Homo sapiens: one gene and its partner. The protein of the gene in region 1 interacts with the protein of each later gene in a pairwise test. Each region holds a gene or a part of one and is shown on either strand. Other genes may lie near its edges.

Region 1 (7,022 bases):
ATTAGGAAAAGTGAATCTAATGCATTAGATTCCTCAGCACCTCTGTGAATTTCTTTTGTCAGAAATGTTTAGTCCTAGTCTTATGAAACTTTAGATCTAATCTAGTTTACAGGAAATCCAGAGGCTGAATGGAACAAATCCAGAAGGTGGGGCACTCTGCTGAACAGCTGGCCTATTCTCTTTTCAATAGAGAATATTATGGGTGGGAGCACTATTTTAGGACAAAAGGGACTTAAGAGGTATAACCAAATGCAGTGTAAATACAAATGTGTGACTCTCCATTGGATTCCTGTTTAAACAAACCAAAAGTAAAACATTTGAGACAATTGGAGGAATTTAAATCTGAGTTAGTTATTAGATGTTGTCTAGGAATGACTACTTAACATACCTTTGAGAACATGTGGTATAGAACAAAGAGTTGTCCCATTTCCCTACCCCCATCATAATTTTATTTAATTTTGACTCTTTATTAATAATCTTTAAACAGAAGACTTACAAGAAGCAGTGTTATGAATACTTATATACCCATCAACTAAAGTTAAAGTGTTAACATTTGCTTCATTTTTGTCTTTGTTAAAGTATTGTATCTTTTCACTTTTTTATGGAAATAATATATAGATAGAAAATGCATAAAACTTAAGGGTGTTCCTTACCACTTCAGAGATCAAGAACTAGAATAGGCTGGCACGGTGGTTCATGCCTGTAATCCCAGCACTTTGGAAGGCTGAGGTAGGTGGATTGCTTGAACCCAGGAGTTCAAGACCAGCCTGGGCAACATGGTGAGACCCCATCTCTACCAAGATAAAAATAAAAATTACCTGGGCATGGTGGTGCATGCCTGTACTGCCAGCTACTCGGGAGGCTGAGATGGGAGGATGGCTTGAGTCCAAGAGGCAGGGGTTGCAGTGAGCCGAGATTGCGCCACTATATCCTAGCCTGGGCAACAGAGCCAGACTGCCAGACCCTGTCAAACAAACAAACAAACAAACAACAACGAAACCCCCACAACTACAATATGTGTAGCATCCTGGAAGCTCACCTCATTTCTTTTCTCTTCTTAATCCCTAATCCATCCTTTGTATCAGTTTATCAACTTATAACCCTATGGATTCGTTTTCTTGTTTTTCAACTATATGTAAGTGGAAAGATTCTACGATATGTACTCTTTGTGTCTGGCCTCTCTTGTTCTACATAGTCGGATTCATTGATGTCATTGCCTGTCATTGTAGTTTATTTTCATTGTTATATCTTATTCCATTGTACAAATATACCACAATTTATCTATTCTGCTCTTGGTGGACCTTTGTATTGTTGCCTCTTTTTTTTTTTTTTTTTTTTTTGCTATTACAAACAATACTGCTGTCAATACTTTTTTGGAGTACATGTGCATGCTTTTTTTTTTTTTTTTTTTTTTTTTTGAGACGGAGTCTCGCTCTGTCGCCCAGGCTAGATTGCAGTGGTGTGATCTCGGCTCACTGCAAGCTCCACCTCCCGGGTTCACGCCATTCTCTCACCTCAGCCTCCTGAGTAGCTGGGACTACAGGCGCCTGCCACCATGCTGGCTAATTTTGTTGTTGTATTTTTAGTAGAGAAGGGGTTTCACGGTGTTAGCCAGGATGGTCTTGATCTCCTGACCTCGTGATCCGCCCGCCTTGGCCTCCCAAAGTGCTGGGATTACAGGCGTGAGCCACCGCACCTGGCCCTAAAATATTTTCTTACTTATCCACAGCAGCACTATCACAAAATTAACAATAATTCTTAAATAGTGTCTAATAACGAATTCATATTTAAATTTCTCCAATTGTCTCAAATGTTTACTCTTGGTTTGTTTAAACAGGAATCCAAGGGAGAGTCACACATTTGTATTTACATTGCATTTGGTTATACCTGTTAAGTCCCTTTTGTTCTAAAATAGTGCTCCCACCCATAACATTCTCTACTGAAAAGAAAATAGGCCAGCTGTTCAGCAGAGTGCCCCACCTTCCAGATTTGTTTCCTTCAGCCTCTGGATTTCCTATAAACTAGATTAGATCTAAAGTTTCATAAGACTAGGGCTAAACATTTCTGATAAAAGTAGTTCGTAAGGGCTGGGCACGGTGGCTTACGTCAGTAATCTCAACACTTTGGGAGGCCAAGGCAGGTGGTGGATGTATCGCTTTGAGCTCAGGAGTTTGAGACCAACCTAGGCAACATGGTAAAACCCTGTCTCTACCAAAAAAAAAAAAACCAACCAAAAAAAAAAAAAACGAAAACCAATCAACCAAACAGACAAACAAAAAAACAGGCAAAAATTAGCTAGCATGGTGGCATGCACCTGTGGTCTCAGCTACTCGGGAGGGTGAGGTTGGAGAATCGCTTGAACCCAGGAGGTCGAGGCTGCAGTGAGCCGAGATCACACCACTGCACTCCAGCCTGGCAAGAGAGTGAATCCGTGTCCAAAAAAAAAAAAAAAAAAAAAAAGAGTAGTGCTTCATAAGGGTGCTGAAGACTTCATATTATATCACATCAGGGCCGAGTGAGGTGGCTCATGCCTGTAATCCCAGCGACTTGGGAAGTCAAGGTGGGAGGATAGCTTCAGGTCAATAGTTCAAGACCAGCAAGTGAGACTGTCTCTACCACAAAATAAATTTTTTTTTAAAATTAATTGGGCATGGTGGGTGCATACCTGTAGTCCTAGCTACTTTTTGGGAGTCTGAGGCAGGAAGATTGCTTGAGCTCAGGAGTTTCAGGTTACAGTGAACTATGATCATGCCACTGTACCCCAACCTGGGTGACAGAACAAGACCTTGTCTCTAAAAAGAAAAGAAGAGAAAGCAATCAGAAAACCCAGATACATCACATCAGAAGCCATATCGTATCTGGAAATCCTGCAATTGATAATGAAGGAATCTTTGAAAGGGAATCTATTGGTGAGCAAATTAGGCACAGAAAGCCTGTGACTTGTTCAAGAGGATAGAGAGAGTTAGTGGCTTGGCTGCAGCCAGATCCAAGGCACTGATTCTGTACTCAGCCTGTCACCATTTTATCCTGTTACTTTCTGCTATTACTTCCTCAGTGTTTGTGTTTTTGCTACCTTTGTTTTAAAAATATATTATTTAGTGATTTTTTTTTTTTTTTTGAGACAGTTTCGCTCTTGTTGCCTAGGCTGGAGTGCAGTGGTGCGATCTCGGCTCACTGCAACCTCCGCCTCCCAGGTTCAAGCAATTCTTCTGCTTCAGCCTCTCGAATAGCTGGGATTACAGGCACCCGCCACCACGCCTGGCTAATTTTTGTATTTTTAGTAGAGATGGGGTCTCACCATGTTGGCCAGGCTGGTCTTGAACTCCTGACCTCAGGCAATCCACCCAAAATGTTGGAATTACAGGTGTGAGCCACCACTCCTGGCCTATCTAGTGATTTTGTGAAATGGACATTTAAATTACCTAGGATCTTAAGACCAAAAATAGTATAAACAATGAACAAATTCCGTGTCTGCATGGAAATGTAAAAATTTCAGACAGCATAGAAGACCTTGGTTCATGGGAAAGTTTTAACTCTCTAATTTTTCTTTGAAATCCTCAATGTTCAGGTGCTATTTTACTTTTTCCTCCTGCCAACCAGGAAGGCAATGAGGTGGACTTCTCAAATTCCTAAAGCATAGTGCCAATGGATGGGGGAAAAAATCACTAAGTACTACTAGATCAATTATGTAAATAGTAAGTGAACAATGAAAACAGTGTTAGCAAACCATGATGCCGTTGAGTCTCTAATTTTATATTCGGTTAATTAATTGCCTACAAGTGACCATTTACTCTATTAATCTTTTCAGAGAACTAATGTTTTTCGTATGTAGTATTTGGCCCCAAAAGAGTAACTTTTATATTTGATATTAATTGGTGCCATTTAAGATAACAGAAATGGCCTGGCTGTATATTGGGTCCTTTAAAACTTAGTTCTTAGGGTGCAGGTTCTTGCCAAGCCATGGTGGTAGCAGTGCCCTTTTTCTCCAGTTAGGAAGATGGGGCCGGGCGTGGTGGCTCACGCCTGTAATCCCAACTCTTTGGGAGGCCGAGGCGGGCAGATCACAAGGTCAGGAGATCGAAACCATCCTGGCTAACACGGTGAAACACCATCTCTACTAAAAATACAAAAATTAGCTGGGTGTGGTGGCAGGCGCCTGTAGTCCCGGCTACTCAGGAGGCTAAGGCAGGGGAATTGCTTGAACCTTGGAGGCGGAGCTTGCAGTGAGCCAAGACTGGGCCACTGTACTCCAGCCTGGGCGACAGAGTGAGACTCCATCTCAAAAAAAAAAAAAAAAAAAAGGAAGATGGTGCACTCTCTAGCAGCTTAGAAACCAGGAAGCCAAGCACAAAAGGGTGTGGAGACCTTCTGTGCTGCAGGGCTTTGCGGTGGGATCTTAAGGCTGTGAGGTGGGATCTTAAGGCTGCTGTGATGTGTGGAATGGCAATACTTATGCTTACAGTTTTTGCCATTTAAAGGAGGCTTTCCTGTATACATTTTAGTGTTGCTATGAGATCATTTGCCTTTCCTTGAGAATGTTTCTCCTCCATAAAGAAGAAACTTTCAGATTTGTGTCAAGAGTTCAACTTCACAGGTAAGTGTCAGGGCCATGCAATTGACTCTTGAACAACATGAATTTGAACTGCATGGGTCCACTTAGACATGGCTCTTTTTCAAGCAAACACTGATCAAAAATTCTACAGTATTTGCAGGATACAAAACCTGTATAGATGGAGGGGCAACTTTTCATATATGCAGGTTCTGCAGGGCCGACTGCGGGACTTGAGTATGCAGGATTTGGGTATACACAGGGGTCCTGGAAGCAATCTCCCGCATTTACCAACGGACAACTGTACAAGTTTGTTATTTGATTAATAGACTCATACTTATATATTTTGCTTTTACTGCATTTATGTAATTTTAAAAATACATATATAAATGTTTCATTTTCTAAGTCTTAACAGTTCCAGATGTTTTCAAGGTAATACATTGTCGTGATAAATTACATAAAAGTGTACTATATTCTTTCTATATTTCCTTATTTTGTCACAAAGAAGGCACTGTATTTTCACTCAGCTAATGATTTCCGTCTCTTCTCTGAAGGTCCATATTGGTTATCTTCCTAACAAGCAAGTCCTTGGCCTCAGCAAACTTGCGAGGTAAGTGTGACTGTGCAGTGAACAAGAATACAGGTTTATAGGACCTGCCCTCATCTGCTGAGAATCTATCTCATCAGGCTTTCTCTCTTTACCTGTATGGATCTAACTTGGAAGTCATATTGCAACTTAAAGACTTGGAGGGTCTGAAACACAGATGCCCCTTCCTTCTCGTCCCCTACTGCCTGCTTCCTCTTCCACTTCCCACCCTTTCTTCCATAGATACATACATCCTGGAAGTCTCAGCCCACCTCTTTCTCTGCAGAGCCTTCTCTGACTGGAGAGGTCCTGAGCTTACCTTCAGTCCAGCCCCATCCTTTAAGGGGGGTTTAGCTAACAGTGAGGGGTTGGGGAAGAAGCTGGGCAGGGGTCTAGCTGCAGTGCTCTGCTGTCGAACTTGTTGTCAGGCCTGAGGACTCTTCTATCCTTGTCAAGGGGAGTGCTCACCTTCTTTGCTTTCATACAACACTGCTTTCAGACTTGTAATGAAACTTCCCTGTGGGATCCCCAGCCTCAACCCTGCCTTGCTCTGCACTGGATGCCTCCAGGCATATCTCAGGGGTCCTGCAGGCCAGTCCGTTCATGTCTAGGTTCTTTGTTTCTGCAAACACAAGACTGCCTGCCTTGGCTTTGCACAGCTTTATTCTGATACAGTGTTCACGCTCCTCGCTCTCATTTCTCTTTCCTGCTACAATCTTCTTTTCTGTTGTTTATCCTGTGGGTTCATGCCTTAAAAAATTCCCTTACTGCCTTTTTTATTTGGGTTTTAGGAGAGGTGATGTACATACACGTTCATCTGTGTTTAACTGGAAGTCAACATGGGGGTTTGTGTTCAGATATCTCTGGTAGGCCCCAGCCACCAATATTTTATTGCCCTTAAATATCCTTGTTGTTTCTTCGTATAAAGTTAGTGAATTTTGAGTGATGGAGGAAATACTGGGAGGTGTGTGTGTGTGTGGAGAGAGAGAGAAAGTTAAGAACAAGATGAAGGGGTCGGGTAAAGTGTTCCTACTCTTTTTTTTTTTCAAAAATAATCAAGCTAAGTTTGAATAACTTGAGGTTATAGTGACCATATCATAATTGAAATAAATGAGTCTCGGCCGGGTGCCGTCTTTCACACTTGTAATCCCAGCACTTTGGGAGGCTGAGGCGGGCGGATCACTTGAGGTCAGGAGTTTGAGACCAGCCTCACCAACATGGTGAAACCCCATCTCTACTAAAAATACAAAGATTAGCTGGGCGTGGTGGCGCACACCTGTAATCCCAGCTAATCAGGAGGCTGAGGCAGGAGAATTACTTGAACCCGGGAGGCAGAGCTTGCAGTGAGCCGAGATTGTGCCATTGCACTCCAGCCTGGGCGATGGAGTAAGACCCTATCTCAAAAAAATAAAAATAAAAGAAGAGGAATAAATGAGTCTCTGTGACCAGTTGACTGTGCTGTGGCTCTGATGTGTTCCTGTTTCTTTATGCAGGCCCTGGGATTTAACACAGTTGTGAAATGGTGGTCCTGATATTTCTCAATTCTGTGTTGGAATCTGTAAAAAAAAAACTACTCCAGCAATCTGACAACTGCCCTCTAAAGTTGTTCCTGTTACTTTGTTTTCACTTCCACTTTCTCATTCATTTCCTCTGGGGATCAATAAGAAAGTGGGTAGAAGAGACAAATTTAACTTCCCCAGTTTCTGACCTCATTCCTGCTCAGCTATTTTGCTATTAGATAGGGCTGCTTGGCACCATGAAAGAATATTATATCATAGCTGTAATTGCTTCACTGGAATAAGGCTCTTAGCACAAATCCAGAAACATTCTGGCTGCTTGCGTGTGATCCATCCCTGGTGGCAGTGCTGAAAAGTTGCTGAGAAAAAG
Region 2 (7,187 bases), on another chromosome or scaffold:
AGTCTGGTCTCAGTTTAGACATAATTTCTCCAGATGGTGTTACCAATCTCTCTACTCTGGGTTAGGTATCACCTCTATTTTTTTTTCTTTTTTCTCCAACTGTTAGCTAAATATCCATGTGGTGTTTTAATAATTCCTAACCATAGAACTTTTAAAAATAAGTTTTATTGAAATATAGTTCACATTGCCATAAAACTCATCCTTTTAAAACATATAAAAAACATATGCCAGTGGTTTTTAATATATTCATGAGGTTTTTCTGAACATCGTCAATAATTCCAGAGCATTTATTTCCATCAATACAAAAAAAAACAAAACCCAAAACAAAAAACCAACCCTGGAAATGACCAATCTACTGTCTATATTTAGAATTTTGCCTACTCTGAACATTTTATGTAAATAGAATCGCGTAATTAATGTGCCTTTTGTGTCTGGCCACTTTCACTTAGCATAATTTTTCAAGTTTATCTATATTGTAGCATCTATCTGTACTTCATTCCTTTTAAGGGTCAAATAACCTTTCATTGTATGGATATAGCACACTTTGTTTATCCATGCATCAAATGACGGATATTGGGGCTGTTTCTGCCGTCTATTATGAATAATGCTGCTATGAATATGCACGTGCAAGTGCTTGTATGCACACACGTTATCATTTCTCTTGAGTATATACCTAAGTGTAGAACTGCTGGTTCATATGATAATTCTATGTTTAACATTTTTTTGAAGAGCTGCCAAACTTTTTCAACATGGCCGCACCATGATACAATCCCATGAATAGTGCATGAGAGTTCTGATTTGTCCACATTCTCACCAGCATTTATCATTTTTTAAATTTTAGTTTTTCTAGTGGGTGTGAAGTTGTATCTCATTGCAGTTTTGATTTGTATTTCCCTGAGGGCTAATGATGAGCATCTTTTCATGTGCATTTGTATATCTTCTTGGAAGAAATGTCTATTCAAATTCACTGCCCATTTAAAAAACTGAATTATCTGAGGCCAGACATGGTGGCTTACGCCTGTAATTCCAGCACTTTGAAAGGCTGAGGCGGGTGGATCACTTGAGGTCAGGAGTTCGAGACCAACCTGGCCAACGTGGTGAAGCCCTGTTTCTACTAAAAATACAAAAATCAGCCAGGCATGGTTGTGGGCACCTGTAATCCCAACTACGTGGGAGGATGAGGTACAAGAATCGCTTGAACCCAGGAGGTGGAGGTTTCAGTGAGCTGAGATTGTGCCATTGTACTCTAGCCTGGGCAACAGAGCAAGACTCCAACTCAAAACAAAAAAACAAAACACACACACACACACACACACACACAAAACAAACCCAAAAACTGAGTTGTCTTTTCATTGTTGAATTGTAAGAGTTCTTTATATACTCTGGATACTAATCAGTTATCAGATATGTTATTTGCACATTCCCTTCCATGTTGTGGACTGTTACTTCACTTTCTTGATAGTGTCCTTTGATACACACAAAAAAATTTGTTTTGAGATATGGTCTCACTGTTTCCCAGGCTGGAGTGCAGTGGCACAATCTCTGCTCACTGCAACCCCCACCTCCTGGGCTAAAGCAATACTCCCACCTCAGCCTCCTGAGTAGCTGGGATTAGAAGCACCCACCACCATGCCCTGCTAATTTTTTTGCATTTTTTTTTGTAGAGATGGAGTCTCATTTCATTACCCAGGATGGTCTTGAACTCCTGGCCTCAAAGGTAATCCTCTTGCCTCGGCCTCCCAAAATGCCGGGATTACACAGTTGTGAGCCACCAAGCCCAGCACTAAATTTTTTTTTAATGAATGAATGGATTAGGTAACCAAAATATCAAGTTTCTTTTTTCTGTCTAAAATTGTATCAACTCTGTGCAGTAACATTGTTTTCATCATGTTGTTGGCAGTTAAAAATTCCTTGACTAACAATTCAGAAGCAAACGAATGCACAAGATGATAGGGATTGTGTGATTTAACAGGTTTTGGAGCAACACTGATCTGGATTCAAATCCTAACTTTAAGAACTGTATCCTTGGGCAAATTACATTACTATTTTTCTTTCTTTAAAATGCGTTTTTTTGTTTGTTTTTTAAGTGCCAGGGGTTTATTTCCCTCACATGTGGGATGGCTCACATACACAACACACAAAGGCGTTGGCACCGTGGGAGAGGGCAGCACCCCTGGCTTCTGCTTGGCCTCACAGTGTAAGAAGGGAGAGGATGGGTTCTCTCTCCTCCCCTCACTAGGGCCTAGGGGACCCAGGAGCAAATTCCATCCCTTTCACCTCTCAGCCAAGGAGAAGCCACATTGGTGACATTTAGTTCCAACAATTACAGTAAGTGGAGAAGGGATTGGTCTGGTCCCGACCATTACACGGTGAAGGTATACATAGTAAAGGAAGATACAGTTTGGATGAGGCCACAATAGGGTGCAGATGACACCATCAGAAGCATGTGCAGGGGAGGGGCAGTCACTCAGCTTCTGGGCTGCTTAGTTCCTGGGTTGGCAGGAAGGGTAGGGAAGACGGATGGGGCTCATTGTTTGGCATTGATGATGTCTACGAATTCGGGCTTGAGGGAAACACCACTCATGAGGAAGGCAGCCACGTCAGGCTGGCTGGCCAGCTCCTTGCAGGTTGCCTTGGTCACAGAGCCTCCATAAATGATACCAGTGCTCTGAGCCACTGCATCAGAGATGTTGGACTTAAGCCATCCTCGGAGCTTCTTGTGTACCTCCTGGGCCTGTTGGGGTGTTGCAGTCTTGCCAGTACCAGTGGCCCACACGGGATCATAGGCCAAGATGACCTTGCTCCAGTCCTTCACATTATCTGCGATGACCTTTGTCTGCTCAAAAACAACCTTCTCAGTGATGCCAGCTTCCCTTTCATCTAGCTTCTCCCCAATGCAGGCGATTACTCCGAGTCTCTCTGCCAGAGCATGGGCCACTTTTCTGCCCAATCAGCTCATCTGACTCCCCAAAGACACGCCTTCTGAGTGCCCCAGGACCACACCACCCACGTGACTCCTAAGTCTTTGACCATGCCAGGGCTGATCTCCCCAGTAAAGGCCCCATTAGTCACTTTGTAGCAGTTCTGCGGAGCCACAGCAATCTTGGGAGCTAGCTTCTGCCGGGCCAACTCGTTATACGCAGTGGCGAGAGCACAAATCACCTTGGTGTCGGCAGGCACAGTGGCCGCGTTCTGAGTGCCGATGAGCTCCCCCAGACATTTCTTCCGCCCGTTCATCTTCCAGTTCCTCCCCACGAAGAACTTCCTGGAGGGCGCCATGGCGCTGGAGCTGAGGCGCTGTAGGTCAGTGTCAGCGCCTAAAACGGGTTTTATTAATACTTGGCAAGGTTGTTAGGCGGATTAAATGAGATCTTGTAACTACAGTGTTTTACACATTGTGATCATTTATCAAATAGCAGTTATTTACTAGTGCAAAGGACTAGCAGCAATGTTAATATCAATATACTGTTACCTTTTGTCCCTAATTTCTCCATAGTACAGTTTCCAATATTTCTGTTTTCTTTTGTGAATTGTTAGACCACTGGTATTGGATTCGGACAGAAAGGCATTCACAAAAATACAGTTCAATGTGAGAATAACCCTAAAGATGTATGCAAAATGCTCTGGAGTTAGAGCACCAGGAGCTGTAAGCAGAATGAAGACCTCTTTTGGGCTTAAGAACTAAGTAAAGGGGAGCTGAACAAAGATTCTAGGCATTTTGGATTTATCTCAATGTGGCACATATTTCAGGTTTGTAAAATAGTTCAGTTGACTACGTGTCTGTCTCCTCCACTAGAGCCAGCGTAGGTACCATGTCTTAAGTCATCTTTGGATCTCCAGTACTGTGGCCACTCTAGGGAGAGTTGAATTGACGCGCCTTGATCACCAGGGCAGAAAAGGATTCTCTGGAGAGGGATGGGGCAGTCGGAAGGGGTAGGAAAAACCTGGATCCGTTTCCAAGGAGCTGAAGGCAGCTCAGATATGGGGCACATCTCGGCGCTAATGTCCCAAGCTGCTAGCGAGGAACAGAGAGAACACCGGCTCTTCTTCCCGGCTCCTGGCCCGGCAGGGTTACTTCCGGGAGGGGGCGGGGAGACAAGAGGAGGCGTGCCGGGAAGGAGGCCGTTTGTAGTGTACCAGGCGGAAGTGTGCCAAAGGTATCGGTGCTGTCGCTTCCGGTCCGGGTAAACGAACCTTAGGTACACTGGTGTGTGGCCTCCCAAGATAGGCTTCTGAGGGCAAGTCAGCGACTGAAGACGGGAGCGCCAGAATCTGTGGACTCAAGAGTCTAGAATCAAGTGGAAAAACCGGAAAAAAGGCCAGGAACCTGAATACGACCTAATAGCTGTTTCCGAGGGGGCAACTTCCACGGAGAGCCTTCTGCCCTGGTAACGGCCAAAGAGGAGGAGATGGCGCCAGTCAGGGAGCGGCCGTGGCCCAGACAGTGAGGAAGCGCGAAGGCGGAGCAACCGAGGAATCCTCCGGAGAAGAATCAGAGCCGTCGCTACCGCCACTACCGCCACCACCATGGAAGGAGCAAAGCCGACATTGCAGCTCGTGTACCAGGCAGTGCAGGCGCTTTACCACGACCCAGATCCCAGCGGAAAGGAGCGCGCCTCTTTTTGGCTTGGGGAGCTGCAGCGTTCGGTGAGGGGCCCAGAGAGGCAGTTCTGTGCCGCACGGCCGGGGCGGGGTGGAACCTAGGCTCCGGGGGAGAACCTGAGCCCGGCAGTTGACCTCGTGAGGTCCTCCTTGGGGAGGAGCTGCTGTCGTGGGGTGGGGCTGCGAAGCTACATCTTTGCCGCTTTTGGGAAACTAGTCGCACCTGATCGGTCGCGAACTGGCCCTTTCCCCACCCGGCAGAATCTGATTTGTAGGTCTTATACTCTTCGATTGTGGCATCAATCTAATCTTGTTTAAGTTCTCCCTTTGCCGTTGCTTCTTGGGCCGTGCTTTTCCGTTTTGTCTTCCTCCCACCAAATCCAACCCCAGTGTTTCTCCACCTTCCGCTTAAGAAGGCTTTATTCGTCTCCCCTCCGTGTCCAAGACTTGCATCTGGCATTTTGCTCCCAGTCGTAGCCTTATGCCTCACTCTTTTTGCCTATTTTCACTCCAGTTTGAGTCTGTTCTTCTCGAAACTTCTCAGGTTTCTAGATTCTTACTCATGCGAGTTTTCCCCTTGCTTTGGAGTGGCAACATAATATGAAGAAAAAACAGTAATTCTGCTTTCAGAAAATCTTTGGAGTTCTCATTTTGTTTCATATTAATCCTCTAACCTTGTTATTTCTCTGGCTTTTAGATTTTTATTTATAAGATGGGTATCACTGCTGCTTTGATTATTCCATATAAAACTGTGTGTGCATCCGGTGAGATATTTAATTGTAGCTTATATCTGTTGTATTTCTGCATTCTTTGATTCATGTTTTATGCTTCCTGCCCTAATTTTCACACCTTTGCTGTGCTTCATTTCTGTGTAAATGTGTATTCTTGGTTATCTGGCTGACTTAGGTTCTAATGTAGGATGTACTTTAAAAATTAAGTACTTTGAAAACTAAAGAGGCTTTTTTTACAGGCTGACAAAATACTCACCTTTACCTTTATTTTTGCATTTTATACTCACAACCATATTTTTTTTGGCCCCCTTCCCTTTATTTTAACTCATAACTGATACTTAAAGGTGCTCTGCCTTATTAAATCAGCTCCTAGGCTGCAAGTGCATAATATTTAAAAATTTGCAACTTTGACTTTTTAAAAATCTGGTCTTGGTATGGAGCAACTTTGCCTTTTTTTTTTTTTTTTTTTTGAGACAGAGTCTCGCTTTGTCGCCCAGGCTGGAGTGCAGTGGTCCCATCTCAGCTCACTGCAACCTCCTCCTCCCGGGTTCAAGAGATTCTCCTGCCTCAGCCTCCCGAGTAGCTGGGATTACAGGTGCCTGCCCTGACACCCGACTAATTTTTTTTTTTTTTTCTTGAGACAGAGTCTGGCTCTGTTGCCCAGGCTGGAGGAGTGCAGTGGTGCTATCTCGGCACACTGCAACCTCCTCCTCCCAGGTTCAAGTGATTCTCCTGTCTCAGCCTCCTGAGTAGCTGGGATTACAGGCACACGCCACCACACCCAGCTAATTTTTGTATTTTTTAGTAGAAACGGGGTTTCGCCATGTTGGCCAGGCTGGTCTCTAACTCCGACCTCAGGTGATCCGCCCGCCTCGGCCTCCCAAAGTGCTGGGATTATAGATGTGAGCCATCGCCCCCCGCTGCAACTTTGACTTTGAATATTAAACCTAAAAAACTGGCACCCAAGTCCTCTTCAGAAAATAAAGGAATACGACTCACTGTAGGCTACACAAGAAAATCATTCACATATGGTCTCATTTAGTGTTTCTGTGATCTCTGGAGAGTCAACAATTCCCTGATCTTTGTATAGTTTTCTAAAGTGTAATTAGGAGAAGTGCTACACTATACTAAAAAAGTAATCTCTTTCTAATTAAACCTGCTTGTTGTGTGTATTTTAAATCAATATTTGAGTGCTTACCATGTGCCAGCAACTATGCTGGGTGTTTGGATTTGGAAATGAACCAGACAAAAATCTCTGCTTACCACAGAAGGTAGTTGTGATTAAATGAGTTAATATTCTACGAAGAGGTTAGAAAAGTTCTTGGAACATAGAGATTAAAATGTTAGCAATTGTTATTTAAGTATTAGTCACTTTTCTCTCCTTACTTTCCAATACTCTATTACAACCTTACATCATCTTCACCATCACAGTTAATAGTCAGAGTCCAGACAGGAACAGATGGCACACTTGACAGGATAATCTGAGTTTATTTTATAAAGATACTATTATAAAGATTTAGGTATAGTGGTGTGACAAGAAATAGTTTGGTAACCTATAGCTGAACGGTTAACATCCCATAAAAGAGGGAATAGTTACTTGAAAAGTATGGAGTTGGCTGCCTTGAGAGGAATGGTGACTTTCAGCCGAAGGGACATAGCTAGTTTCAGGTGACCTTGAGAGAATGAAGCTGGAGGAATGAATATCCTGACCCTGTTCTCTTAATTTCTTGCTGGGATTCCCCATTGGCCAAACCCAACCGGAAGCCAGGGGCACAGTGACCTGTTGGTAAAGTCTATACAGGTCAGCCTATTGGAGCAGAAAACATGATAGAGGAGGGTGGAAAAGTGGATCTG

Evidence for each region.
Region 2: the proteins of GCH1 (region 1) and TNPO3 interact in binary tests that used the Homo sapiens proteins (3 or more experiments, as listed by UniProt).

Annotation. Positions count from the first base shown.
Region 1 is NC_000014.9:54,857,818-54,864,839, reverse strand, and holds part of GCH1 (GTP cyclohydrolase 1), read left to right. Parts: intron 1-5,103; coding exon 5,104-5,159; intron 5,160-7,022. UniProt on the Homo sapiens protein: Positively regulates nitric oxide synthesis in umbilical vein endothelial cells (HUVECs). May be involved in dopamine synthesis. May modify pain sensitivity and persistence.
Region 2 is NC_000007.14:129,052,111-129,059,297, reverse strand, and holds the start of TNPO3 (transportin-3), read left to right. Parts: upstream 1-4,186; 5' UTR 4,187-4,527; coding exon 4,528-4,647; intron 4,648-7,187. UniProt on the Homo sapiens protein: Importin, which transports target proteins into the nucleus. Specifically mediates the nuclear import of splicing factor serine/arginine (SR) proteins, such as RBM4, SFRS1 and SFRS2, by recognizing phosphorylated SR domains.